4 separate regions of the Homo sapiens genome follow, and all the other regions are reported to be linked to region 3. The links are microRNA targets in miRTarBase. Many come from high-throughput screens and were not tested one by one. Region 3 holds a microRNA gene; each other region holds the end of a gene's coding sequence.

Region 1 (7,120 bases), not on the chromosome of region 3:
AGGTTTCATAAGCCAAGATGGTGCCGCTGCACTCCAGCCTGGGTGACAAGAGCAAAACTCCATCTCAAAAAAAAAAAAAAAAAAAGCAATGGCTCTCCATAGGATGTTTTACAGGGAAGGGCAGAATTTGAGCCACTTAAAAAAAAATTTAATAACCTTTTTCCTTTCCAATTTTCAAGATTATAGACTTTTTAATTGAATTTATCTGTGTATTTTATTTTTTAATTTTTTTGAGACAGAGTCTCACTCTGTTACCCAGGCTGAACTACAGTGGTGCAACCAAGGCGCACTGCAGCCTGGAACTCCTGGGCTCAAAGGATCCTCTCATGTTAGCCCCTCCTTCCTATAGTTGGGACTACAGGTGTATGCCACAATGCCTGGCTAATTTTTACATTTTTTGTAGAGATAGGGTCTCCCTATGTTGCTTAGGCTGGTCTGGAACTACTGGGCTCAAGCGATCCTCCCACCTCAGCCTCTCAAAGTGCTGGGATTACGGGTGTGAGCCACCGTACCCTGTGGACTTTATTTTTAGAGCAGTTTTCTAGAAAAATTTCACAGAATGTGGTTCTCATATACCTGCTTTGCCCCTGCATGCAGTTTCTCCTATTAATAACATCTTGCAATCATGTGGTAGATTTGTTTGTTTGTTTGTTTGTTTGTTTGTTTTCTGAGAGGGAGTCTAGCTCTGTCGCCCCAGCTGGAGTGCAGTGGCATGATCTTGGCTCACTGCAAGCTCCACCTCCCGGGTTCATGTGATTCTCCTGCCTCAGCCTCCCAAGTAACGGGGATTACAGGCACCCACCACCATGCCCGGGTAGTTTTTGTATTTTTTTAAGTAGAGACGGGGTTTCACCATGTTGGCCAGGCTGGTCTCAAACTCCTGACCTCAAGTGATCCACCTGCCTCGGCCTTACAAAGCGCTGGGATTATAGGCGTGAGCCACCGTGCCCGGCCTCTCTTGGTACATTTGTTGCTTGACAAACCAATAGTGATGTATTATTATTACTAACTGAAGTCAACGTAAGTTATAGTTCACTGTGCGGTGCATTCTGTGGGTTTTGACAAATGCATGCCATGTCCCACCATTACGTGTCACACAGAATATGTTCACCGCCCCGACCGCCCTGAGTCTTCTCTGTTCTCCTTCCGTGTTCATTCCTCCCCTCTTCCGGGTTCGTGTCTTTTAAGCTCATTGGGGCTGCCGTGAGGAAGCTGGGTTGTAGGGCAGAATAATGAAGGCAGGAGGGAGCTGGCTGGCCCCGAGCGTGCAGGGGAAGGAAGGGGAGGGCACGGGCCCTTCGCGCCTCTGACCCCCCTTGCCTCCACTCGCCCAGGGCTGCGCTGCTATGCCAAATTCCACCGGAACCGCAGGGTTACACGGAGGAAAGGGCGCTGTGTGGAGCCCGAGACGGCCAACGGCGACCAGGGATCCTTCATCAACGTCTAGCGGCCCCGCGGGACTGGGGACTGAGCCCAGGAGGTTTGCACAAGCCGGGCGATTTGTTTGTAACTAGCAGTGGGAGATCAAGTTGGGGAACAGATGGCTGAGGCTGCAGACTCAGGCCCAGGACACTCAACCCCAGGAGGGGAGCCGCTCGGCGAATGAGCTGGGTGGGTGCCCAGGAGCCGGCCCGCAGCACCTGCACACACGAAGTCCGGACCCACGCAGCCTCCATCCCGCGTGTCTTGCTCTCCGCGATGGCAATGCCGAGAGTGCCCTCTACTGTCCGACTCCAGCACTGCAACAGCTTCAAGTTCAAAACCAAGAGGCGTTTTTGAGAGTGGAAAAGAAATTTAAACTTCCCGAAAGAAGGTCCACCATCAGGAGATGAATATGGAACATCTCCTATGTACCAGGCACTGTGCTAAGTGCTGGAATACATTATCTCATTGAATTATCACAACGACCTTTTCAAGTAGGCATTATCACCATGCGACAGGTTGAGGACCGTGAGGCACGCTGGAGTTATTTGACTCGACTTGCCCAGGGTCCCAGGTCAGTGCTCCTCAAACCTGAACATGCTAAGAGTCACCTGGAGGTCCAGTTAAAAATGTACATCTGGCCGGGCGCGGCGGCTCACGCTTGTAATCCCAGCACTTTGGGAGGCCAAGGCGGGTGGCTCACCTGAGGTCAGGAGTTCGAGACCAGCCTGGCCAACATGGGGAAACCCCGTCTCTATTAAAAATACAAAAATTAGGCCAGGCGCGGTGGTGCACACCTGTAATCCCAGCTACTCGGAGGCTGAGGCACCAGAATCGCTTGAACTTGGGAGGCAGAGGTTGCAGTGAGCAGAGATCGTGCCACTGCACTCCAGCCTGGGGGACAAGAGTGAAACTCCATCTCAAAAAAAAAAAAAAAAAAAAGCACATCTGACTCAGTGGGCTCTGTGCTCTAACAAGCTCCCAGGGAACGCGAGGCTGCTGGCCCAGGGACCCACTGAGAGGTCCTGGGAAGTACATGGCAGAGCAAGGACATGAACCTGGGCCAAGGCTGTCCAGCTCCAAGGCCCACGTTCTTGCTGCTCCACAGCCAAGAATTTCTTCCAGATTCTCTAAGGCTTTTGGCAAGAGAGGCTCACACCCTGGTATTCCCTTCCTCTGTGGCTGGAATAACTTGACTGTTCTCTGCCTTCCCTGGATAAAGGTGTATCATGTTTAAAAACAAAACAAAATACAACTTAAGCACATACTTGCTTGCAGGAATAAGTTGGGCAGGTTGATCCCTGTGGTCTAGTAGCTGATATCCTGGGATAAGAAGTGTTTGGGGAAAAGAATCATGTTGGCCTTTATGTCCCTGTGGTCCTGATCATCCAGTCCTGGACAGGCACTTTACAGTTTTCTGGAGCACTTCCCCCCCAGGGGTTCTGATGCAAGCATGGAATCCAAAAAAACCCCACACATATTGCCCATGTTTACCCACTTTGCATACTGTTTAGTGATTTCCAGGACCACAAAACCATCCCTGGAACCCCACCCCACATTTTTGCAGCAGAGCCCACTGGGAAGTTGAGGCTCACCTGAAATTGAGGTGCTATCTGAAGCTAACTGCCCCTAACAGGCCAGACTCACAATGCCCACCCAGGACATCTGTCCCAGCAGATCTGGCTTCAGGGGTCACTTCAGGAGAACCATTTAAATCCCCCCACTTGGCATCTCACTCCTGGCCAACCCTCTGTTCCAGGGCGAACCAGGTTGCAAATGACAAAAGACTTTCCTGGCCAAATTCCTCACTGGCCTGGATCACGCCCATAAGATGCCAGAGATGTTTACTGCGTTGGAAAAATCAGTCGGGGTCAGGGGTCAGGCACCAAGGAAAGCAGGCAGATCTAGAAGAAATTAAATATGCTTGTTCTCTCCCTATCCAAGTTTGATGGGCATGGGAACCTTGTGGGGAGGGAGCAGGGAGGGCAGGGGAACTGGGAGATCAAAGCAGGCTAGCTGAAAGGCAGATATGGCTAGACACAATGGCTCATGCCTGTAATCCCAGCACTTTGGGAGGCTGAGGTGGGCGGACCACCTCAGGTCAGGAGTTTGAGACCAGCCTGGCCAACATGGCAAAACCCGGTCTCTACCAAATATACAAAAATTAAGGCTGGGCACGAGGGCTCATGTCTGACATCCCAGCACTCTGGGAGGCCGAGGTAGGCAGATCACTTGAAGTAAGGCGTTCGAGAACAGCCTGACCAACATGGTGAAACCCCATCTCTACTAAAAATACAAAAATTAGCCAGGCATGGTGGCAGGTGCCTGTAATCCCAGCTACTCAGGAGGCTCAGGCGGGAGAATCACTTGAACCCAGGAGGCGGAGGTTGCGGTGAGCCAAGATCACGCCATTGCACTCCAGCCTGGGCGACAGAGTGAGACTCCAAAAATATAAAACACTTAAAAATGTAAAAAGGCAGATCTGCCAGCAGCTTCGTACTTGAGACCAGACAACCCACACATGCTGTGTGTGCCTCACATTAAGTGGTGACTCGGGACTGTGCTGGCTCTGTGGGGCTAGAACCCTAAGGAGTACCGCCGGAAGAAAGCCCAGCATTACTATGGCTGGGGGACAGCTGTTAGATGGTCCTAGGACATCAGCCATGGAGAACACAGAGGGTCAGGACAAAGCTAAAATGCCCATAGAACTGCCACTGGTTGCCAGGGTAGTTCCATGGTTGGAAATTCAAGGCCCGTCTCTTTGCCCTAGCTATCTCTATTTGACATTTCCAAAGAGGGATGGGTGGATGGAACCTCTTAACTCCAGAGCTGGGAATCCCAAAGCCCTCTCAAGTGTCTAACCAACCTCTCTGCCAGGAAGTTCTTCCTTAGGTCTATCTTAAATTTATTTTGCTCATACAGAAGCCAGTTTCCTCTAATCCAGGGTTTAGCAAACTTTTACTGTGAGGAGCCAAATAAACATTTTAGGATTTGCAAGCCATCTGATCTCCACCAGCTACTCAGCTCTGCCGTAGCTCGAAGCAGCCACAGAGAGTGTGTAAATGAATTCATGGCTATGCTCCAGGAAAACTATTTCTGGACACACATGTGAATTCTGTATACTTTTCACATGTCACAAAATATTATTCTCTCTTTCCTTTTTTTTTTTTTTGGAGATGGAGTTTTGCTCTGCTGCCCAGGCTGGAATGCAGTGGCTCAGTCTCAGCTCACTGCAACCTCTTCATCCCAGGTTCAAGCAATTCTCCTGCCTCAGCCTCCCAAGTAGCTGTGACTACAGGCATGTGCCACCACACCTGGTTAATTTTTGTATTTTTAGTAGAGATAAGGTTTTACCATGTTGGCCAGGCTGGTCTCAAACTTCTGACCTCAGGTGATCCGCCCGCCTCAGCCTCCCAAAATGCTGGGATTACAGGTGTGAGCCACCGCACCTGGCCATAAAATATTATTAGTTTAATTTTCTAAAACCATTTAAAAGTGCAAAAACTGCTCTTTGCTTGCCAACTGCGCAAAACCAGGCAGTGGGGCAGATTTGGCCTGAGGGTCACGGTTTGCCAACCCCTGCTCAAGCCTGCTCACTCTCAACGCTGGCTGCACGTTGCAATAATCCAGGAACATTCACAGGCCTGGGGCCCACCCACAAAGCTTCTGTTTTGTTTGGTCTGGGCTTCATAGTTTTTCTCCCAGGTAACTTCAGGTGCAGCTGGGGCGGAGAGTCTCTGCTCTCCCCTTCCATCTGTAGCAGTGTGGCTGGTGTTAAATCCACCTATTCCACCTCTCACAGCTTTGGCAACCTTAGGAAAGTTTCTTAAGGTCTCTGTGCCTTGATTTTTTCATCTGTAAAATGGGAATAATAACTCTCCCTTCATAGGGTTGTTGTGAGTAGTGAATGCATACTTCTTTTTTTTTTTTTTTCTTTTGAGACAGAGTTTCACTCTTGTTGCCCAGGCTGGAGTGCAGTGGCACGATCTCGGCTCACTGCGACCTCTGCCTCCTGGGTACAAGTGATTCTCCCGCCTCAGCCTCTCGCGTACCTGGGATTATAGGCAAGCATCACCACGCCCGGTTACTGTTTGTATTTTTAGTAGAGATGGGGTTTCACCATGTTGGCCAGGCTGGTCTCAAACTCCTGACCTCAGGTGATCCCCCCGTCTCAGCCTCCCAAAGTGCTGGGATTACAGGCATGAGCCAGCATGCCTGGCCTGTGAACGCAGAATTCTTATAAGGTGTTTAGAACAGTGCCTAGCACCTAATAAACCTCCAGTGTTAGCTAATTTGTTATTCTAGGAGAATTTTAGATGTCGGTTCTTTGACAATGACCCATCACATACTCTGAGATCATTTCTAAGTCACCATTCAAGCTCCTTCCCCAAAGTGTGTTCCATAGAACACTGGGACCATGAGATGCTCTATTAGAAAGGGTCAGGGTACGGTTCCATGGTCAGAGAGGTTTGGAAAACTGTTCTGGCCTCAGCCCTTGGCAGCATGTGCAGATTCCAGGCACCGAGGCAGGGCTGGAGGAGTAAGTGGCTTTGCAATAAAATGGGTGCTGGAGTCTAAAATGATACCCTGGGTGGAGTGGGGGAGCTGAGCAGGAGGCCAGGTGGCAACCAGTAGCTGCTGGGCCCGTGGCCTGAACCCTCCTGCACTCCTCCAGCTGGAGTCTCACCGCGGATCCCAGGAATACCTGCTGTTCCCACAGGGCTGCCTTTCCGTAGTTTGTCTGGAGACACCAAGAGTGGTTTCCATGCCTGCTGGGAATAGGCTGAGCATGCAATGACATGAGGGCCAAGGCTTGTGGGAAAATGACAGCTTCACAGCCCCTTGAGGAGTGACCAAGCCACAAAGTAAATCCTAAAGCCACAACCCCTTCTACCACTGAGCTGCTGGAGGTGGGTCCTTATTTCAAGCCATATTCAACCCACCCAACAAAACCTAACATTGAGGTGGTGGGCACACGGCCCCTGCCGTGGGGCTCACTCTGCAGCTGGAGAGACAGCATACCTGAAACCTGCAAGGAACCGGTTTATAAAACAACAGAACAGCCAGGAAAATGGTGCTAGGAGAGACAGTGGAGAGGCCAGAGAAGCAAACCACTGTGGCTCCTCACTGGGGGTTTCACGGGGTTGGACTGAGCCCTGTCACCTCTGTGATAGTCTTCACTCTGACAGGCAATGGTGACTGTGTGTGTTTCCTGGGGAGGAGGTTAGCAGGGACGGTTGCCTTTCCTGGGAAGGGCAGTTTGCAGAACCAGGGGTTTATATTGCAGGGAGTGTATTTTCTGAATTCTAAGTCAGAACAAGCAGTCTGATACAGGATCCATGGCTGGGTCACTTCTGGGTGCAAGAGGCTTTCTAGACCTTAGACACTCAAGATTACGGTCCCGGGCCAGTAACAGCACCTGGGAGCTTGGTAGAAATGCAGAATCTTAGCCTAGGCAACATAGGGAGACCTCATCTCTGCAAAAAATAACAAAATTAGCCGGGCATGGTGGTGCACACCTGTAGTCCCAGCTATTCTCCAGGCTGAGGTGGGAGGATCGCTTGAGCCCAAGAGGTTGAGGCTGCAGTGAGCCATGATCGCACCACTGCACTCCAGCTTAGGCAATACAGCGAGACCTTGTCTCAAAAAAAGACAAAAAAAACAAAAAGAAATGTAGATTCTTGGGCCCCACCACCCC
Region 2 (7,101 bases), not on the chromosome of region 3:
TAATTTGAACCCATAATAAGAACCCACTTAGCCAGAGGCATTTCAGGTACATTTTTATTATTTTAGTTATTTCTGCTCCTGATCTCTATCCCATCCACAGAGTGTATTATCTTTCTTTTCCCCCTCTACTAGGCACAAATGGGTCCTTCAAAGTATGTCTCCTCAAATCCCACCATTGAGTCTGGAAATATGCTTATTTCTTTCCAATTTCATCTAGCCTCTTTCTCGGATACTCATTCCTCCGTCTAAAGTAATGAGAGTGGATTAGGAACTATTACTTTTTTAAAAAGATCTGATACACTGAATAATACACCAGCTAAGAATTCAATTCTCAGTGCTTTCAAAATAAATTCACTTTGATCCCAAATGTTTTCATACAGATTGGTAACTGCATTGTTCATCTTAGAGTTAATTACTTAGAGTAATTAAATTTTCTCCAAGGATCTATATTTTATTTTGTGTAAGGCTTATATTGAAACATAACTTGGAATAAATTTCACTAAAACAATGTATGCTTACCTCTCTTATGTAGACTAAAGTTACATGATTTATTAGTCAACGGAATCCTGTCCTTTGTTCTATTTAAACCTCACTTCATCCTTTCCAAGAGATAAACATCTCTACCTAAATTGACTGAACAGCTTTTCACACCTCTAAGAAACTGGATTCTTTTTGCATTGAAGGCAAAATTCATAGGACTGTTATTGTGTTATGGTCCCTTCCTGCATACTTACTACGTAACCCTAGCTACTTACCTCTAAACACTTACTACATGCTGGCTATCTTCTGCCTACTCATAATGCTTCATGTATAAAATCCAAAGAAATGAAGAAAATTGCCACCAAATCTTTATTAATAGCTAGTGGCCACCTATTTTGGACAACAAATGAGTGGCCTTTTGACTAGAATAATGGGAAGAGTGTTATATTTTATAAAATTGTAAAATTGAGCCATTTATGCCATTGGCATGTACTGTTCTAATATTTTCATAATTTAAGTTTTTTTAAAAAGCTGAGCAAAAAACAGATCCTTTTAGAACTGCTCAAGATGGTGCTAATGGTTTCTGTATTACCTGGCAGTTGAAGATATAACCAACCATCAACCCCGGCTGACTGGGAGGAAAGACACATCATAAGAGTGGGGTCGGCCCGGCACGGTGGCTCACACCTGTAATCTCAGCACTTTGGGAGGCTAAGGTGTGTGGATCACCTGAGGTCAGGAGTTCACGACCATCCTGGCTAACATGGTGAAACCCTGTCTCTACTAAAAATACAAAAATTAGCTGGGAGTGGTGACAGGCACCTGTAATCCCAGCTACACTGGAGGCTGACGCAGGAAATTCGCTTGAACCCAGGAGGCGGAGGTTGCAGTAAGCCATGATCATGCCATTGCACTCCAGCCTGGGCAACAAGAGTGAAACTCCGTCTCAAAAAAAAAAAAAAAAAAAAAAAAAAAAAAGTTCAGGAAAGCATTGTCTAAGATGATCAGAACCATTAGTTAGAAGAGAGGCTCCCATCTGGACTTCTGCCCTACACATTATGTTCTTATTTTATTGTGCCCTTGCTATATAAGTGTAAAACCCACCATTTCACTGGAAAAAGATAAATACTTCATTTTTCACTCTAAGAAGTAGCATATCTAAATGGTCCATCCAGGAATAATGGAGAGTCTCAAAAACAAACATCAGAACTTAACTTCTTAGCACACCACACAAACAAGAAAGGCTTCATTTCTAGACAGTCTCCTCATATGTCTAATTGGCCATGACAATATGGTACTGGTATCTCCCTTCTTTCCTTTAATGCTATATTTTAAAAAGTCTGCATTCATTCAATATTTAGAGTGTCCCTGTTAAATGTTGAATAATGTGCTAAAGAGTTAAGAAGCCATGTCCTTACTACAAAGTAGGTAATACTCTAGTTGGAAGAAAGAGAAGTAACCCATTACAGTACAATGAGGTCAGTGACATGGTAAGATTTGTGCTATGGGCAAGTAGCAAATAGGTTCAGACAAATCAGACTATAAAGGCTCTCCGTGAAGGGAAAAATTTTAAGTGAATCATGAATAACAGAAATGTTATTAACACATATAAGGGAAAGAATATGTAGCTAGCAAAAGAAACAGCTTATGAGCTTAGGTTTTCTGTGGCCCTAAATTGAAGCTCAGACAACAAATTCTGAGATGAGGATTCTTATGCAAGTTTATTGGAGAGAGCTATGGAATCACATTTGTGAGAAGAAAAGGCAGGACGATTAGGCAAAGGGGAAAGCTAACCTGCAGTGTAGTCACAAAATGGCCTTAGCCAATAACAGGAGGCTGGGAGGGTGGTCTGAAACTGGGAAGACTCTTCACAGGTGGAGTAAGGGGACTTCACACCCCCACGTAGACCAGTCATTGAATACAAGCAGACCCTAGGGAGGAGTAGAAAACTTGGGCTAAATGACTTTAGCCAAAGGCAATTCCACAAATGGCCCCCAACTCTATTTACCAAACATTTATACTTCTCTATAGAGGAGATCACTGGATAAGTTTGCCATTTTTCACCTTGGAATGAATCCTCTGTCCTCCAGAGTTTGGTTTTGTGTCCACAACACATTCTTTGTCCAATCAGCATTGCTATCGTGGAAGTTTTGATTTCACTCAACCACACGGTATGAGGACCAGAAACCTTAGAGAAAACAAAACAAAACAAAACTTGCTTTAGTCCATTTTCCTTAAAAGGCAGATATTGTCATGGGGTGCACCTAGGATATGACAGTTGCTACATACAGCTTCTTTAATAAGGAAAATGTCTGATTTGCTGCTGTGAAAAGGCAGTGATAGAAAAAAAATATATCTTCATCAACTAACTCCTATCTAGGGTGCTAACTTTTCTCCAGATGTCATAAGAAATATGAGATCAGTAGCCTTAAAAAAACTATGCCTTCATCTCTTAAAAACTTACCAAGGCTATCAAGAAGTAGGGGTACGGCTTACTACGTGTAGTCACAAGACCAGCAGCAACAGCATCATGTGAGAACTGTTAGAAATGGAATTACTCAGGCCATACCACAGACCTATTGAATCAGAAACAGTGGGATGGGACCATGCAATCAGGGTTTTAACAAATCCTCCAGGTGATTCTGATTCATGTTAGAGGTGGGACTTAACTTACAGCAGGTGCCCTTTACAAGAGTTGTTTTTAATTTTTAAAGTAGAGATGGGATCTCACCATGTTGCTTAGGCTGATCTCACACTCCTGGGCTCAAGCAATCTGCCTGCCTTGGCCTCCCGAAGTGCTGGGATTACAGGCATGAGCTACTGCACCCAGCCTGTTCTTTTTTTAAATTTCAAAAATATAATAATTTTTTTTTCCTGGTTCTAAAAGGAATCCTTATTCATGGGAGAAATATTTAATCCAAAAAGTTTAAGTGAATGTAAATTCTATCCCAAAGACAGTAGTACTATGAACATTTTCATGCATTTCTTTTCATATACTTTTCATGAATGTTTTATTTGTAGAAAATATGATGATGCTGTTATTATTTTGTAACCTGCTTTTGGATTTAATGATTTGTTTAGCTCAATACATATAGATGTAACAAAAATATAACTCAGCCTGCAAATACAAATGAACCTACCCATACTCCAAGCCTTTCCATGTGCTACTAAGCCAGGAGTCCAATCTTTTAATACGTCTCTCCTTCCCAATATTCCCAAGTTTAGAACTCTGGTTTTGGAGTTTTAAAAGGGCACACATATTTAGAAGTAACAATTTTTTATTTTGTGCTAGGCATTGAGGTGGTTATACAACAGGATATCAACTTAATAAACCTAAATGTTTGGGAAAACATTAGTATATAAAGTATTAGTTTAAACTTCTAAATATGAGTATTATTTTCTAAACGTTTCCATTTGACAGTTCCTCCATTCTGTTCTCAGTTCTTAAGGAAGCAATGTCAAGAGAAAGGAAAATATCTTTTCTTTAATTCAAGACTTCAGAGACCATTGTAAACTTGAATAAAGAAAGCTAGGAGAAAATTATTATTATTGTTATTATTATTTTGCAGTGATATTTCACAATGCTATTCAGGTTTGAGTTGTCAACAACACAGTGCAGGCTTTTGAGTCAGGCTGACTTGGGATAAGATCTTTGCTCTGGTATCTGCAAGCTCTGTGGCTTGCTACATTACTTTGAGCATGTTATTTCACCTTTACAGTCTTGTTCTCACTTGAGAAAAAAATAATTACAGAAGGCACTTGGTAAGGTCAATTTGAAAATTGGATAATGTGTTAAATGAAGGATTTGGTTCCAAAAACTTCCTGGTTTAAAGAACAACAAAAAATTTTCTAGACCATGAGAAGAAAAGTAACTTATATTTGCAGTTCCTTGTGGTATTTCTCCTTCCTCCACTTCACTACCTTTGTGTGAATTTGAAGGTAAACAGATCAACCCCTGGCTGCAATGTGAAGTCAGCAAAGACTTGCTTCTGATTGACAGCCTCTGCTTCCTTACCCTTCTTCACTATTGCAGGTGACTGTCTCACTTTCAGGATCCTATTCGGTTCCTACTCTTCCCTTTCAAACCAAGTCTAAAGTAGCAGCCATTACTCATTTGCATTAATTAAACTGAACTGGAGTATGCTTCGTTCCTAAGTTTTTACATTTACTACTAACTTTTACCTCCAATTATGCAATGCATCTGACGTAGAACATGACACATGGTAGTAGAACTAGCATCAGAGTTTTGGGCTGTGGCTCTGCTCCCTTACAGTGGACGAAAGTGGGATAGCCACCAAGCCTCAACTTTAGTTTCTCTGCCCCCACGTTGTTCCGTGGTGACTTCTGAGAGTTCCTGGCTAGAAGAGCTGGAATCCCTCCATCACTGGCATCTCCCAGGAGCAGGAACCCTCTCCCTTGGCACGGGTGTGCTTCTCTCCAGCCCTCCTCCAAGCAGACATCCCAACCAGGGGCAGGCTAATTCAGTCTCCTGTTCCTTTTGACCTTCACCAGCCAGACTCCCTCATGCATATTTCTGATAACTGTGACTCGTTAGATACATTTTAAATTATTATCTTAATATGTAATATTCACACAATTTAATATAAAAATTTTTAGAGGAGCTATAAAATCTCTCCCACCCTAATCTCCTTCTTCAGTCTTCCTTCTTCTCCTAAATACAGGTAATCATTGTAATTTATTTCTTATTCTTTATTTATACACAGTAAGGACAAACGTAAGTTTTATTTAACATTTTCACCCCAAATGTAGCATTTTATGTACACTGCTCTGTATCTTGCCTATTTTCAACTTTTTAAAAAGAAATACCGTCTCATTTGTTTCTCCAGCTGAATAGTGTTCCTTTATATGAATATGCCTCAACTGTCTCTAATTAGGAAAATCGAGATGGTTTCTTGACTTTTGGTATTACTAATAGTGCTGCAGAGAATAATATTGTTTGTAAGTTATTTCACACGTGGGCAAGTTTTTGTTGTTGTGGTTGTTGTTGTTTTGTTTTGTTTTGAGATAGAGTCTCACTCTGTTGCCCAGGCTGGAGTGCAGTGGCATGATCTCGGCTCACTGCAACCTCCACCTCCCAGGTTCAGGTGATTCTCTTGCCTCAGCCTTCCGAGTAGCTGGGACTACAGGTGCCCGCCACCATGCCCGGCTAATTTTTGTATTTTTAGTAGAGACAGGGTTTCACCATATTGGCCAGGCTGGTCTCGAACTCCTGACCTTGTGATCCACCCTCCTCAGCCTCCCAAAGTGCTAGGATTACAGGCCTGAGCCACCACGCCCAGCTGTGGGCAAGTATTTTTATAGGACACATTTCCAGGCCTAGAATTTATAGATGAAAGGCTACATGCATCTGTAATAGATATCACCTAATTGCCTCCATAGTGGTTGTACTATAAATGGCATGCATGCTATTTAATTTGTATTTCTATTATCATGAGTGAGATTGAACCTCTTTTAATGTAGTTTTTTTTCTCTGCAAACTGTTCATGTCCTTTCACCATATTTCTATTGTGTCTCCTGTAATGTAAATATTCACTGTGTAATAATATTTTCAAATCTTAAAATGCAAATTATTCCCAATATTTCTCATTGTCTCTAGCAATTTCTGGCAAATAAGCAAATCATTGCAATGGAGTTCTATGTTAAGGAAAGTATTTTTACATTAGTGGCATATTTTATTGTATCTACCCAGCCAGCCTGTATGAAAATACACCCATTTGAAGAATCAACCATATTAATGAATTTATTTTGACATACAAACAATTTAAAATGGATAGAATATATAAAGCCACATTACAAAATAAAAACAATTGTGGTCAATATGCACAATCTTAAAACACAGATAAATATATATATACACAAAATCAAAGCAATGTGATTGTACTATAAATTGTATTACCACTCTATGAAGAATCATGTCTGGAGAAGTCCTCTAGTCCCTCCACCTACCTCGGGCTTCTAAACTCTGTAGTAAGCTCTTGCTTCATGTCGTTCAAGGGTCTTCCTTGTTTGCTCAGTTTTTCTGTGAGACTGAACACAAAGAACAGACATCGGCTGATTTCTACTTGGACAATGGCCCAGGCACAGGTGCTGTAGTCCTGGTTTTCCAGGTAATCATGGATCCTTCGGAAGTACATTTTAACTTGTAATCTAAGGTTATCACTACCCAAAGTACCACTTAGCTTCTCTGCTTCCAGTCCCATGAGTGCTTCTAGGTATTCTAGCTGTTGATGAAGTTGAATGAGGAATTTCTCCGTGTGGTTTTCCTCCCAACCATCCAGAGAAATATTTGCCCTGAAGAGGCTGAAGATCTGCTGAAGCATCTCATGGAGAATGGCCAGAGTGTGTCCTTTTTGGTACTGCTGAGGACTCAAAGACTTCTGAGGAAGCAGAAAGTTTTTCCTGTGTGGTAGACACTGCTGAATTGACAAGGTTTGCAACTTATTCAAGAGTTTTAAACTTTCTTGATTCACTTGTCTTTGCTGGAAGATAATCAGTTTCAAATCTAGAGAGAAGATAGTGGTAGAGGCCAGCAGCACCAACACAGTTCCAAAGAAGTGCTTGATAATCATGGTGAAGGTCAAATATGCTACTTATCCCTGC
Region 3 (7,120 bases):
CCTAAAACTTCTGGCATTTAGTCAGGGGCCCTGGCTCACGACTGTAATCCCAGCACTTTGAGAGTCTGAGGTGGGTGGATCAGCTGAGGTCAGGAGTTTGAAACCAGCCTGGCCAACATGGCGAAACCCCATCTCTACTAAAAATACAAAAATTAGCTGGGCATGGTGGCACGTGCCTGTAATACCAGCTACTTGGGAGGCTAAGGCAGGAGGATTGCCTGAACCTGGGAGGCGTAGGTTGCAGTTAGCCGAGATTATCCCACTGCGCCACAGCCTGGGCAACAGAGTGAGACTCCATCTCAAAAAAAAACAAAACAAACAAACAAACAAAACAAGAACAACAACAAAAAACTGGCATTTAAGAATTACAGGTTGGGCCCACCATTTCCTTATTCCCTTCCAATCTTCCACATATTATGGTTGAAGTAAAAAATGTAGAGACTTGCCCAAGTTCACAAAGCTAGTTGGTGGCAAATCTGAGGCTTAAGTCAGGTCTCTTGGTATTTACTTTAGTGTAGTTTCTTTTATACCTGGTTTTAAGTCACTTAATTTACTCCTCAAAATAAAGGGCGTTAGCTAATCTTTAAGATCCCTTCTAATTCAAAATTCTATAGCTGAACTAATTTCATGAAAATGAAAGAATATTCTTTATAGGTAGAGTGATAAAAGGTAAAAGGAAAGATTATTCAAACTTAATTTAATGTCTGTTTGCTTCTTTGTTATTAGGTTTTAAATACTCTTGAAAGTACTCAAGCCAGCTTGTATTTTGCTGAAGATCCTCCCACATCACTAAAGTCCTTCAGGTGTCCTTCTCCTCTATTCCTGGAGAATGTACCAAGTATTCCAGTGGAAGATGATGAAAGCCAGAATAACAATTTACTACCTTCTGATGAAGGCCTGAGGATAGACAGAATGACTCAGAAAACTCCTTTTGAATGCAGCCAGTCTGAGGTTATGTTTCTGAGCTTGGACAAAAAGCCAGAGAGCAAGAGAAATGAGGAAGCTTGCAACATGCCCAGTTCTTCTTGTGAAGAAAGTTGGTTCCCAAAGTATATAGTTCCATCCCAGGACTTAAGGCCCTATAAGGTAAATATAGATCCTTCTTCAGAAGCTCCAGGGCATTCTTGCAGGAGCAGGCCAGTGGAGAGCAGCTGTTCCTCCAAATTTTCCTGGGATGAATATGAACAGTACAAAAAAGAATAAATTCTACCAGAAGATAAAGAAAAAAGCAAGTATTGCATAGGCACCTGAGCATAGGTATGACCTTGGGAAGACATTGGCTCCATAAGCAATGCCAAGAGAATGATCAATAGTGAGTTTGGGTGATGCAGATAAACAATCTGGATAATTCCATTTCTTTTTTCCCAAACCCTCAAACAGAGTGCCTTAAAAAATTGTTTTATCAGGATAATTGTCTCATGACCAAATCCACGCTCAATTAGAGCCATTCAAAATTCCTTAAGATCATGGGTTCTGACTTCAGCCAAACAAAACAATCAAAACCTACCAAAAAGGGACTGGATTGTAATGTCCTCTCCATCATCCTCAGTGTGAGTCCTCAGAGCCTCCATCTGCCAAGAACATTCAGTTGGATTCCATCGTTTGGTTTAGCTTGCTTGCACGGGTTGTAGGAAATGTCTAATTTGTAAATGTTAATAGATACCTTTGGAAAGAATCACCTTGTTATTCTGATTGACCCCTCTTGTTTTTTGGTTAATCCCTGACTAGCCTGCTTGTCTGAAAATGAGCCAGGTTCACCCTTAGCTACGGCATGCTCTGGGTTGAAAGGGGATTTCTTCCCAAGATCTATCCTAAACTCTTAGGACAGTTTATCCTGTATTGACTATTATTACAGCTTTTTAAAAACAGACTTAGTGACCTATTATATCTTAAGGAGACTATGTGAAATGTCCATCAAGTAATTTTTATTCCTGAGAAAATGGCTGGTCAAGGGCCTAGGTCAGCTTTTTGTTTAATCTACACCTTTCAACTCTGGGCCTTCATTCCTGCTGTTTCTTGGATCTCCCTCTTTTGAAATCCTACCAATCATCAGAGCTCTACAAAACAGCCACCTCCTGGAAGCTTCCCTAATCTCTACAACCAGAAGTACTCCCTTTATCAGTATTTCCACAGCAATTTCTTTGTATTTCTATTTTATATTTATCACTTTCTGAATTATATCAAAGCTGCTTGTCTTATCTCTTTTTTTTTTTGAGACGGAGTCTCGCTCTGTCATCCAGGCTGGAGTGCAGTGGCACAATCTCGGCTCACCGCAAGGTCTGCCTCCCGGGTTCACGCCATTCTCCTGCCTCAGCCTCCCGAGTAAAGGTGGGACTACAGGCGCCCGCCACTACGCCCGGCTAATTTTTTGTATTTTTAGTAGAGACGGGGTTTCACCATGTTAGGCAGGATGGTCTCGATCTCCTGACCTCATGATCCGCCTGCCTGGCCTCCCAAAGTGCTGGGATTACAGGCGTGAGCCACCGCGCCCAGCCTTCATCTCTTTTACTAGGTTGTAAACTCCCTATATTAGTTTTCTATTGTTTTTGTAACACATTATCACAAATTTAGTGACTTAAAGTAACATAAATTAATTATTTTGCAGTTCTGGAGGTCAGAATTCCTTAGCATTCTTTCTGGAGGCTGTTGGGGAGAACTCACTGCCTTGCCTTTTCCAGCTTCTAGAGGCCACCTGCCTTCTTTGGCTCATGGCCTCTTCCTCCGTCTTCAAAGCCAGCAACGTGACATTTCAGATCTCCCTCTCTCTGTCTGTCTCACCGCATCTCTTCACTACCCTCTTCCTCTCATTCTGGCCCTTCTGCATGTCTTTTATAAAGACCTTTGTGATTTCACTGGGCCCACTCATATAAGCCAGGAAAATCTCTGTGTCTCAGATCCTTAATTTAATTACACCTGCAAAGTCCGTTTTCTCGTGTAAAGTAACATATTCACAGGTTTCTGGAATTGGGACGTGGACATCTTCGGGGGACCATTACTCTGTCTGTCATACTCCCTGAGTGTGTAAGGGCCATCTCTTCAGAGCCTAATGTGTCATCCTACACAGAGCAGGTGTTTCCTTATAAATTAAGTTGAATTAAATTACCCCTATGAAGCCACATAATCAATAATTCAGCTATAATAAACATTGCCGAATAAATTAACAAAGGGAGGATAATGACTCCTTATGATGATGGATAGAAACACTGAAGAAAACCATTTTCAGAGGATTTACTGAATTTTCCTCTCCAAGGAGCTTGTAATAGAAGGGTAAACCTCTAGTTTCTTGTCCAGCAGAGGAATAGGCTCATGTCTTTTGTTTTATTTTATTTTTTTGGTGAGTCAGTATGGTTGGGTTAATCATATTCACATTAGATTCCATGTTGAAGAACAACTAATCAAAGAAGAAAATCATCAGGAATCAGGGTGAGATTAACAGACCAAGGTCAGAAACATGGAGTTACAATTTTCCAAAAAAGCACGAAGTGAGATTAAAACCACAGTAAGTCTTAGTCTGACTGACAGGCTTTATACAGGCCCTCGGTAAGCAGTTGGGAGAACCCATGCCCACCACTGCTCTGTACGGTATCTGGCTGCTCAGAGCTCTCTGATTCACAAAAGAGATCATCAAGAATTGACTCTGTGTTAAACTGTTTTTCACTTAGAATATGGACCCCCACCAATACATTCAATGAAGGGTCATTAAGGAAGCTCTGATTAACACCAGGCCCATGCAGTTACTCCGCACATATAATCTGTGGGTATTATGTTGATTTGAACTTGCTTAGCTGACTTAAAGCAGGGTTTCTCAAACTGTAGTATGCATCAGAATGACTTGGAAAGCTGGTTAAAAACGCAGATTGCTGGGTCCACCCAGCTTCTGATGCAATAGGTCTGGGGTTAGAAATTTTGCTTTCTAATGAGTTCCCAGGTGATGCTGATGCCAATGATGTGAAGCCCGCTCTTCACATCCGTGAAAATCGCTGCCTTAAGGTGCTCTTAAATTGTTATAGATTGGTAGATCCTACCTTTCCATCACTGGTATGTTTTTTGAGAAAAGGATCCTTTCTTTTCATTCTGTTATATTCATCCTATTACATAGGATGTTGGTTAGCACAGAGTGGGAGCTCTAGAAAGATTGTTGACCAATCATCTTATTGACTAGACCATCTTTCTAGAGTATAACTATTTTGGACACCTCAAAGATGAAGTCAGATAAGCTGGCAGTGACCTGATTAACGTTGTGGTAAGCAGATGCCACTGTGGCTGGGAAGTACCAAATCTTCTGTTGAGTGATTCAGTCTTCCTGACTAGATTTGCCTTCTAGTGGGTGTATTAATAAGCGTTAGTTGATATGAATTAAATGTTGCAACTTTCTATGGGTAATAAGAGGATACCTTTATAGTTTCATGATGTGGAGACCAAGATACATAAGAAAGCAAGAATGAGTCTCCGGGTGTTCCCTCTGATCAGCAAACATGAATTCATAATTTCATTTACTCTCATTTTTGTAATGCACTCTGAGCAATCCTCCAGGCAGATCCTATTTACTAAGCTTCAGGCTTTTGTCCCATTTTATAATGCCCAAACACATGGAGAAAACATTTTGTTGTTTTTAAAAACAGGTATGGGATTTCTGATATAATCAATTTTATTGACTTCTTGGGAGTTGTAATGATCTGTGACTCACTGCATAATATTGTAGTTTTATAGGGTGGCACATCACCCTGTGTAAAACAACTTTAATGACCTGAGGACTGATGAGTACAGGAAGTGAGGTTTATCATGAGTAGCATTTATTAAGCATCTGCTAGAATCAAAGCACTGCATTAGCTACTAAGGTACAAAGTAAGACACAGTTTAATAAGGAAGACAGGGCATCTACCCAAGTCAACAGTTCAGTGACATCTGTTATTTGAACCACACACCAATGCAACCGAAGTAAATGCTGAAAGGGTGAGAAGAAGGAATAGATTACTATGCATTTTTGAGAGGATGAAGAAGGCTTCTTGGAGAAGGTTTCTGAAAAGAGATACGGAATTAAGAGAAATAGAAAAGAGCACTGACGAAGCACTCAGGATGGCTATTCAAGGAATTGGGGATCCACAGCAGCTGTGCACAACCATCCCTAATGCCAGAAAAATGGGGTAAGGGTGAAGGGAACTGGGTCTAGAGCTTTGCATGTTTTTTTCTGGTTAACCCTTAGAGTCACCCTGAAGGTGTGGATCCCATCTTATAATAAGGTGAGGACACTGAGTCAGGAAACTAACTTGCTAAAATCAAGTCCTCCCAGTCCTCCCATCAGGTCCTTCCAGATCTGGAGGAGCCAGGATTTGAACTCACATTTGTCTGACTTCAAAATCCATGCTTTTTCTTGTGTTCCAAATTGCACAATGGAGTCACTGCCAGTTCAAGCTCCTATGAAAAGGGATGGATGTGAAAAGTCATTTGTTGATTCCACAGATTTTTAGTAGGTACCATGTCTCCTGCCTTTATCACTATCCTACTCCTCTGCTACAACTTCTCTGCTACAGGCACCCACTGCAGTTACTTGATATGAGTTAAATGAATCCATCCATCCAAACTTCCATTCATTGAATAAATACTTAGCAATGGCTTCCTTTGTATCAGGCACTATTCTAGGAGCTGGGGCTACAGTGCAGATGGAAACCAGCAAAGCTCACTGCCCTCATGGAGCTTATATGTAAGTGAATAAATCTCAGGGTGGTTCTCCTGTCATAGGTCCTGGCTCCTCTGCCAGCTCTTCCAAATGGGTTCAGAGAGGTTTTCTCCTTGTCCTGTTGTGTAACTGATAATCCCATGGTGGACCTCACTTTGCTATTCATATGCACTAAGTAGTTTATGGTGTGCTTTGTGGCTGGCAATTGTGACAGATTCTATTCTTCTATTGGTATGTGGTTTCTTTGGGGCATTTGTTTGGATACTGATGGCATCTTCCGGGGGTCTGAGGCACCTACACAAACCTCAGGTCACTATCACGTGATACTGGAGTTGCCTGTTAAATTATATTTCTTCTTCCACAAAACTGCAGGTTCCCTGAGGGAAAGGTCTATGTCCTGCTCATTTTTGGATCCCTAATGGCTGGCACAGTACCTGGTGCATAATATGGTTCAACAAATATTTGTAAAATGAATGAATCAAATAGTCCTTCAAAGCATCTTCAGAATCAAGATTGTCATCTAGATTGCACCCGAAGTTTATCTTTCTAGTATTCAGAATATAATCAATCATTGCTTAAATTATTCCATTTCATCATTCTTGAATAAAAGCTACTAATTTTAAATACTAATATCTGAGATATCTTCGAAAAGAAGATTAGTCGTTGTATGTGTTGCTTATAAATTTTCTCTATGGTGGAAAATATTCCCAAACCATGTCTAAGCAATGAAAAACCAGTGTTCTGGCAGGAAATAAACTGATGTTTGTTGTGTTTTGTATCTGTCTTCCCGTTCCAAATCATTTATATATACTTGATGGTCTGTGGGCTTGACTTGCAAGTATTTTCCTGGGAGACATTTTTATTCAAAAGACCTGTATTGCCTGCCAAACCTTCATTTAAGAGACTCATTATGGATGTCATCTGCATCATTGCAAACTTTTCTGGTCGTCTCTATAAATAGCAAGATAATATTTACAGAGTTTTACATTGGCTCTTGAATTTTAAAATATTCTTATAGACAAACATTAATTGGAATGGGGGGTAAGGAGGTAGGAATGGCTTACTTGCGGAAATGCAGGCTCATTGTTGTGTCTAGTAGGTGCTAGGTGCATTCACACATCTCTTAAGCTTTAAACAACCTATTGAGCCGGTTTCCATTTCCTTGATCTATTAGATTTAAAAAAATGAAGCATAAAGGAGTTGGCTCTTGCCCTAAGTCATACTACTGATGGAATGAGAATACAAACCAAAAACACTTTATTCAAGTCCAGGAAATATCTGCCTTGAAAAAGAATAACTTAAAAATTAAAAGTGTCCTCTATTTGAACATGAAAACAGCTAATAAAGATGTGTTATTTTATTTTATTATTATTAATTTTGTCCTCCCATATTGGCAAAGATAAAGCAATTGACAAAAATGGAATTCTTGTTCAATACTGGCAG
Region 4 (7,120 bases), not on the chromosome of region 3:
GCCAAGATTTTGAATCTGCAGGGATCACAGCTCTGTGTGCCCTCAAAAGGGTGGGCAGCAGAGTCCTTGGAGAGGGTGCTATCCAAGGGCCGGCTCCTGGCAGGTGGGGACAGGCAGAGTAGGGTGCGTGTGGGCAGGGTGGGGCTGTGCTCAGTGCCTGCACAGCCTCACCGCCCTGGGAGCCCTGGGATTTAACCCGCCCTTTGTCTCTACCAAGCCCCACCCATATGGGACATGTGGAAGAAGGGCATCCAGGGACAGACCACACCCTCCCACAGCTCCGCACCCGGGTTTCAGGATGAAGCTGTTGATGGCGTCCACACACGTGGTTCCTTGGCTCTGGTCAGTGCTCAGCACAGACTGACGAAGCATCGACCTTGGGAACAAGCCCAGTCCTGCTTAGATTTACATCCACACCCTAGAAGCCATGGCTTCTCCATGTCTTGATGCCCCAGGCCACCTCGAGGCCTTTAAGCGGGGAGAGCGCCTCCTAGAAGAAGCCCAGTCGCTGAGGGGCATAGCCTGTTTGTAAGCACTACATGCAGCTGAAAGAGCAAAGCAGCCCCTCCCCCACAAAACCACAAAACTCAAGCCAGCCTCATAGGGCTGCCCTGCCTGGGCCCAAGCCTCCCTCTCACCCTTATCAGGGATTTGTCCAAGCAAAGCCTGTGCTAAAATAAGCCAGAATAATTCTTCCCCAGCCACACCCTCCAGTCCAGAGGCCACATTGAAGGATGGCTCTGGTATAGGGCTGTCAGAGGGCCGTGCAGCTTAGCCCTGCCCTGCCCTGCCCTCCTCTGCTCGGCTCTGCCCGCCCCTCAGTCATGTTTTTGGTACCCACAGGTGTGACGAGTACATTACACAGCTGGATGAGATGCAGCGGCAGCTGGCGGCTGCTGAGGACGAGAAGAAGACGCTGAACTCGCTGCTGCGCATGGCCATCCAGCAGAAGCTGGCGCTGACCCAGCGGCTGGAGCTGCTCGAGCTGGACCATGAGCAGACCCGGCGTGGCCGTGCCAAAGCCGCCCCGAAGACCAAGCCAGCCACACCGAGCGTAAGTCACACCTGTGCCTGTGCCAGCGACAGGGCCGAGGGCACCGGGCTGGCCAACCAGGTGTTCTGCAGCGAGAAGCACAGCATTTACTGTGATTAGGGGCTGTGGGGCGCCGCACGCTGCAGCTAACATCTGCTTCACCTCAACTAACCCAGCAGCAGCGGGACGGCGGTGCTAGGTCAATCTTAACGTGACTAATGCACAGAGGGTAGGAGTCTAGCCGAGGCGCCATGGGGCGTTGCATCAGCAGGACACTTGTGAGAGCTTTGTGTCGCTTCTCACTCCTCAAAGCCCCCTCAGGAGCACCCAGTCCTCAGCTGCTCTCTTAGGTGGGGGTCAGAGGTGGGGATAGAGCTGCACATTCTTGCAGCAGATGTGTGATGAAAGCATCTTCTAAGCCCTGCGCACCCGTGGGGAAACCCAAGGGAGGAGTCCTGGTCCTGCTCCCTCAGCACCCAAAAGGGGCAGAACCTGAGTTGAGACTTGCATGTTCCTCGCATGTGTCTAATGTCAGCACTAGAAAGCAGTTTTAGGAGGTTCCAGCCTGCAGCATAGGTACGACCTCAGAGGATGGCTTTGCACTTGGCATAGTTTCATGGAAAGGAGTACGTTGTAGTTTATGCAGTATCTGACTGCAAATCATATTCAGGAAAGAAGTGCAGAATTTCTTCCCCAAGCCCAGAGAAGAGCAGCCCTGAGCCCCTGTATTCTGCTGGCCAGACACACATGGCACAGACACAGCTGACCATAACCCAGGAATCCAGAGCTCGGTTTCTCATTTCTGAGATCAGGATGCTTGTATAGTGGCCTGTGAGGTGACAGATTGGCAGGGCCCAAGGCCCCAGGTTTTCATTTTTCATGAGAAAAGCTTTCCAAGTGCCTGGCCAGACCTTGGTCCTTAGTGCAGAGCCCGTCCTTTTGTACTTGGGGTGACCCCAGCAGCCAATTATCCGGCCTTCCATAGGGGGTTCAGTCCCAAAGACATGGGGCTTTGAAAACCCTAGCCTGAAGTCTGAGCCACCAAGGGCTTGGCTGGGTTGGACACCCACAGGTGTATCCAGAGCCCAGCCCGGTGCTGGGAAAGCTTTGCATAGGGCCAGGGCCACTTGTCAGGATTCACAGGTAGGAGATGTTTAGGTCTCTTTATTTAGTGCAATCTGGGGGATGGCAACAGAGAAAGAGGAAAGGTAGCTGTAGGGTTCTCCCATTTCCAGAGGCTCCATCCACACCTGCCTTCCCACATTCTGAGCAGAACTTTTCTCAGTACTTTTTTCCCGATCACCCTGTGGGACCAGCTGGACCTGAGGCTGCAGTCTTCTCTCCTGCAGGCTGCTTGCCTTGTCTCTCATGCGGAAGAGGCATTCGAGTTACCTGGTGAGAGACCGTGTTGCCCCCTCCCACAGCTCTCTGCCCTGCGCGTTCTTCCCTTTGGTGCCGAGTATGTTTCGGTCCCCTCCAGACTCCAGGACACGCCCATGTATGTCCCCTGCGTGTTCATCCTGGGCCCAGATCCCCCTGCCCCAGCAAGACTCGCAGTGGGATGGCTGCTGGCATGCCCACCCTGCATGCGCTTTGCCCTCTCCTTGCAAGCCTGGCACATAGCTTCTCTCCATACTCCTAAGGGACTTTGCAGACACCCAAGCCACTGGGACCCCTGCTAACACATGCAGGTCTTCTCTTCTGCCAACTAACGTGCTCGCGCCCTCCCAGCACGTGGAGAGCTTCAATTGTCAGATAAACAGGAAGCGACAGATGACCGCTTTCTAACGCTCTCTTTTCTCCCGTTTTCAGCTGTAGAGTAGCTGCCAGGAGGACTTGGCCACCCGGCCCTGTCACACTGCAGCCCCTTCCCCTTCCCTCTCGTGGCCCACAAGGAGGAAGGAAGGGCAACCTAAAAGCCCACTTAGAAACTTTTTGGATATGCCACTGCAATTCTTTTCAAAATAGCATTCCCCAGGTTTTTAATGGGAGGAAAAAAAGCTTTAATGTTGAGCATGCTGCGAGCTGCTGCGTGGAAAGGCCTCTGTATGGGCCGAAGACCCTTCTTCCCTGGCTGCCAGGCTCGCCAGGAGCCCACTGGAAACGCCCACCACGGGGGCTCCTTGTTACACATGTTCTTTTTTTATCCGATCAACCTGTGCACTTTTGATATTTTGATATTATATTTGCTTCCTTAATTCCTCGCGTAGAGACGGTCTCAGGTGCCGTGGTCTATGCTCGTGGTCCTGTAGCTGTCCGCCTCAGCTCCCACCGTGTTTGTCTGGTGTCAGCACGAGGCAGAGCTGTGTGCTCCATAGCGTGTAGCTTTAGACTCGGAGATGAGTGCTTTGACCCAGCGAGGAGCTCAGCTAAGTGTATCCACGCTGTGGTTCAGCAGCCTTTAGATCATACGGCATTGTGGTTCATGTTTGAAATTACAGATTTTAAATGCCATGTTCATTAAGAAATCCAGGGTATTCAGATTCTGGGGTTTTTCATATTGTATTATTATTATTCTTAGGAATAGTTCAATGTAACAAGAAGAAAACTTGACCTTTGCTCTGGTTAAAACAGTAATAGGCACTTGAAAAAAAAAGATAAATTATTGAATGAGTAGTATTACCTACAAATTCCAGAATTTTCTGGGTTTTAGGACGTTGTGAAGCATGACTGATTAACAGAATTTTATACAACTGTACCAATAAAATTCCAAATTGGAATTGTTTTGTTACTCTGGTTGTTGTGCCAAATTGTGGTACACTTAGAAAATTCTACAGTCGTCGATTTTTAGGGTGTTCTCTTTCAACACCTTTTTGTTAGTAATCATTGCCAGTAGTGCCTTCATCAGTTAAGGGAGGTGTCCCAGCACAGATCATTCTCAAAAGCGAGCAGGGAAGAGCTAGTGGGCATGCTGAAGGCCAGCGTGGACAGCAGGTGAGGCAGGTGCTCCTCACACCCAGACCTGGGCATCTTCATTGAGGGAAAGAAAACAGTCATTGTGCAAAATTCTGTTAGTCAGTGATTCTTTACTTGCAAATTCAGGGGCTTAGAAAATGAAAGCAAACACAAAACCTTGAGTGTGCTTTGGGAACCAAATGGACCTTCTGGGACAAGCTGAGCAAGCTGTATGAACGCCACGTTTGTGAAGAGCTGAGGGTATCAGGAGGGCCGACGCTGTGTTGGCATGCGCAGTAGGGGATGAGGGTTAGCCATAGTATTCTTTGCAAATGTGAAAGCGAGACATTATATCTTCTCTTGCTTGGTGTAACTAATCACTGTTAATTTCAGGAAACAGAACTCATTAAAACTCCTTAGCAAACCAGGTCTACATCCTGTTTTGTTTGCTGAGTGAGGTTAGTGGGAGTGGTCAAATTGGTACTCTTGGAGGAAGAAAAACTGTCCTTCCTTCTCCAAAAAAGGAAAAATTATAATAATATAAATGACAAAAATAAAAGAATTCTGTTTCCTGGAATAAGCATTTCTTATTCCTAGTTGTAGGGACTCCTATTTTTACCTTCCGTTACAGTGTTGATTCATAAGAAATATTGTTACATTTGAGATAACTTCATCTGTATGGGGTATTTATTTGCAATGATGTCTGAGTACTGTATTTTTTCTGTGCATTACCTTAGTGTCAGAATGTTGGTCTTTATTTTAAAGTCATATGCATGTTCTCCTGCCAAGGAACCTTTACACAGACCCAAACAAAAAAATAATAATCAAATGCCTTCAATTTCTGAGAAAATGAGGCAGAGCATGGAAAAGGAATAGGAAGGAGAAATTAATTGAGATTTTCAGGACACAGACATATGATGTGAATGCCTACAAAGCCAGTGCGCATAGGAACAGTGGGCCTGGGTAAAGAGTCACATTGGTAGGACCAATAAAGAATAATAAAAAGACAAAGCACATGTTTGTTCTCTGTGGTTGTTCTGACTCCGTGCTCCAGATAACTGTGGTTTAAGCAAGGCACAATAAATCCACTGCCTCAAACAACAACAGCAACAAGCCTATCAGGTAACCCTGGTAGTGGGAACTGGAAGCAGCCTGGGGTCCACCTTCAGGAGAATGGGGAGGGGTCATGTATATGTGGGGAGGCTGTCACTCCATCCCTGAAACAAGAATGTGTTCAAGGACCCAGAAGATGAGGGTAGGGAAAGGGTAGAGTTGGTGTCTGGGTGCTTGTGCCAATCAAATACACCACCAGGCAGAAGTGAGCCAGGCCACACTGGGCCACGCACATGAGTGGAGTGGAGGGCACAGACAATGCCCCCCCCTGGAAAGATGCCTGCCCCCCAGGGCCCTGACGCCTCATAACTCTGTCCTCAAGGGTCTTCTGAAGTGCAGCATCAGGTTTGAAGCCACAGCAGCATGTTGGTAAGAACACATTGTGTATACATAGACTAAAACTAGGAGTAGCCTATGCTATCCTGATGAGGAGGCAGGGATTCAGATGATGTAGAATCCTTTGCTGTCTAAACTCTCACTCTCTGAACCCAGGAATCACATTTGTCTGTAGGAATATGTACAAATATACAGTGGGCACGTTCATATGGTTGCTTGTGGGTGTGAGAAAAGGGGACAGTGTCTAGTCAAGGGGACAGTAAATACCAGGACACACTCCTGCCACCTCCTAGTCCGACAGCCTCAGTCAGGCCTGTGTGGCTTCACTCATGTAGGGCTTCCCTCTGGAAAGCCGTCTCAGGCTAGGGTCTTGCTGCCATGCCCCTTCCCCAGGACCCCTCCATCTGACTGCAGTCTCACTGCCATACCACCTTTCCTAGTTTCACTGTCACTGCAGAACCTCCAGCCTTTGATGATACTATTCTGCTTTAGTAGCAGCTGTTGGGACTTGTTTTCAGTTTAAACCATTCTTTCTGATGGAGTAAAAGAGGCAGTTGTCCAACTCCTGGAAAAGGTTGAAAAGAAAGCCCTGAACTGATCTAGAAGAACCTCAAGGAGAAGGGAGGTGTAAAGCGTCAGGGCCCTGTGGGGCAGGCTTCTTTACAGGGACAGTGTCTGTGCCTTCCACTCCCACACTTGTGCATGGCCCAGTGTGGCCTGGCTCACTTCTGCCTGGTGGTGTATTTGATTGGCACAGGTATCCAGACACTGAGTCTGCCCTCCCCCATCCTCATCTTCTGGGTCCTTGAACACAGTCTTCAGTTTCAAGGATGGAGCGGCAGCCTCTTGAGTGGGTGGGGTCTCAGGAGCTTGCAGAGGGGGACAGTCCATGCTGAAAGGCCTTCTGCTCAGCCTTCCCTCTGGGAGAGGGTGGTCTGCATTTCTTCTGCATCTTCCATCTCCCCGCAGTGTTTTCACCCCTACTTCCCGGCAGATTACTAGAGCTGGAAACAACAGCATGGACTTGAGAGCCGGACTGATGATTGAATCACCACCGTTTGGTAGCTGGCTGCCTTAGCTCTCTGAGCCTCAACTTCCCTATCTGTTAGGTGGGGACAAAATAGTGCCTCTTGTATAGGTGGTTGTGAAGCTTCATCAAGCCCTTGGTACCAGCATGCAGCAGGTACTCAATTGATGATTGGTGCTAATATGGTTCTTACTGTCATCATCATCACCAGTGCTTTGGACACAAGGCCATGTATCTAGGTCTTTGTCCTTTGGGGAATATAATTTTAAGCCAACTTATTAACAGAGTGTAATTTGCATCCAGGAAAGTGTGCACATCCTAGTATACAGGCCAAATTTGCACACAGTGAACACAGCTATGTAACTAGTAACCCCAAAGTTCTCCACCCCTACCCTCAGGTATGCTTTTTGGGGAGTATTTATCCTTCATCAGCACAAATTAATAGGGTGTCTGCTAGTCCTGGTGAGTCACTGGGCTGCCTTCTTCCCACAAAGCCTCCTAGGAGAACAGACATGCCACATCAGGTTTGCTTCATCAAAGTTTTTGTGAAATTTAGCACACATACATTAAAGTGCAAATAAAAGTGTCCACTGGCCAACTGGATTTTTGCAAACTAAATACTGTCACACTGTGTAGCCAGCACTCAGAGGAAAGGCAAGTGAGGATATCCCCCAGAAGTCCTGATGTTTTCTGCACCCGCTCCTCCCAGGGCTAAC

The links. Region 3 holds the annotated microRNA hsa-miR-6502-3p (UAGACCAUCUUUCUAGAGUAU, at 4,160-4,180, shown strand). A microRNA usually pairs through its seed, bases 2 to 8, with sites in the 3' UTR of a target mRNA and lowers its output. Matches are read on the target gene's strand: a 7mer-m8 pairs with bases 2 to 8, a 7mer-A1 pairs with bases 2 to 7 and ends in A, and an 8mer does both.
Region 1: the mRNA of DRAXIN is a reported target of hsa-miR-6502-3p. Seed matches in the 3' UTR shown: 7mer-A1 at 2,727-2,733.
Region 2: miRTarBase lists IFNE as a target of hsa-miR-6502-3p. The part of its 3' UTR that is shown has no 7-base or 8-base seed match.
Region 4: miRTarBase lists BICD2 as a target of hsa-miR-6502-3p. Seed matches in the 3' UTR shown: 7mer-A1 at 3,262-3,268.

What each region holds. Positions count from the first base shown.
Region 1 is chr1:11,718,250-11,725,369 of GRCh38, forward strand. It overlaps DRAXIN (dorsal inhibitory axon guidance protein), which reads left to right. Exons shown (of 7, transcript NM_198545.4): 7 at 1,335-7,120. The coding sequence ends at 1,447. Among named protein-coding and RNA genes, the nearest start is that of AGTRAP, 14 kb to the right of the region's middle. RefSeq lists an enhancer at 1,495-1,564.
Region 2 is chr9:21,474,625-21,481,725 of GRCh38, forward strand. IFNE (interferon epsilon) reads right to left here. Exons shown (of 1, transcript NM_176891.5): 1 at 6,215-7,101. The coding sequence starts at 7,070. The coding sequence ends at 6,444. It overlaps MIR31HG (MIR31 host gene), which reads right to left. Exons shown (of 3, transcript NR_152879.1): 2 at 2,545-2,668. Among named protein-coding and RNA genes, the nearest start is that of IFNE, 4.1 kb to the right of the region's middle.
Region 3 is chr12:66,246,969-66,254,088 of GRCh38, forward strand. It overlaps MIR6502 (microRNA 6502), which reads left to right and starts at 4,114; the gene lies at 4,114-4,189. IRAK3 (interleukin 1 receptor associated kinase 3) reads left to right here. Exons shown (of 12, transcript NM_007199.3): 12 at 727-7,120. The coding sequence ends at 1,203.
Region 4 is chr9:92,709,187-92,716,306 of GRCh38, reverse strand. It overlaps BICD2 (BICD cargo adaptor 2), which reads left to right. Exons shown (of 7, transcript NM_001003800.2): 7 at 844-4,944. The coding sequence ends at 1,153. Among named protein-coding and RNA genes, the nearest start is that of IPPK, 43 kb to the right of the region's middle.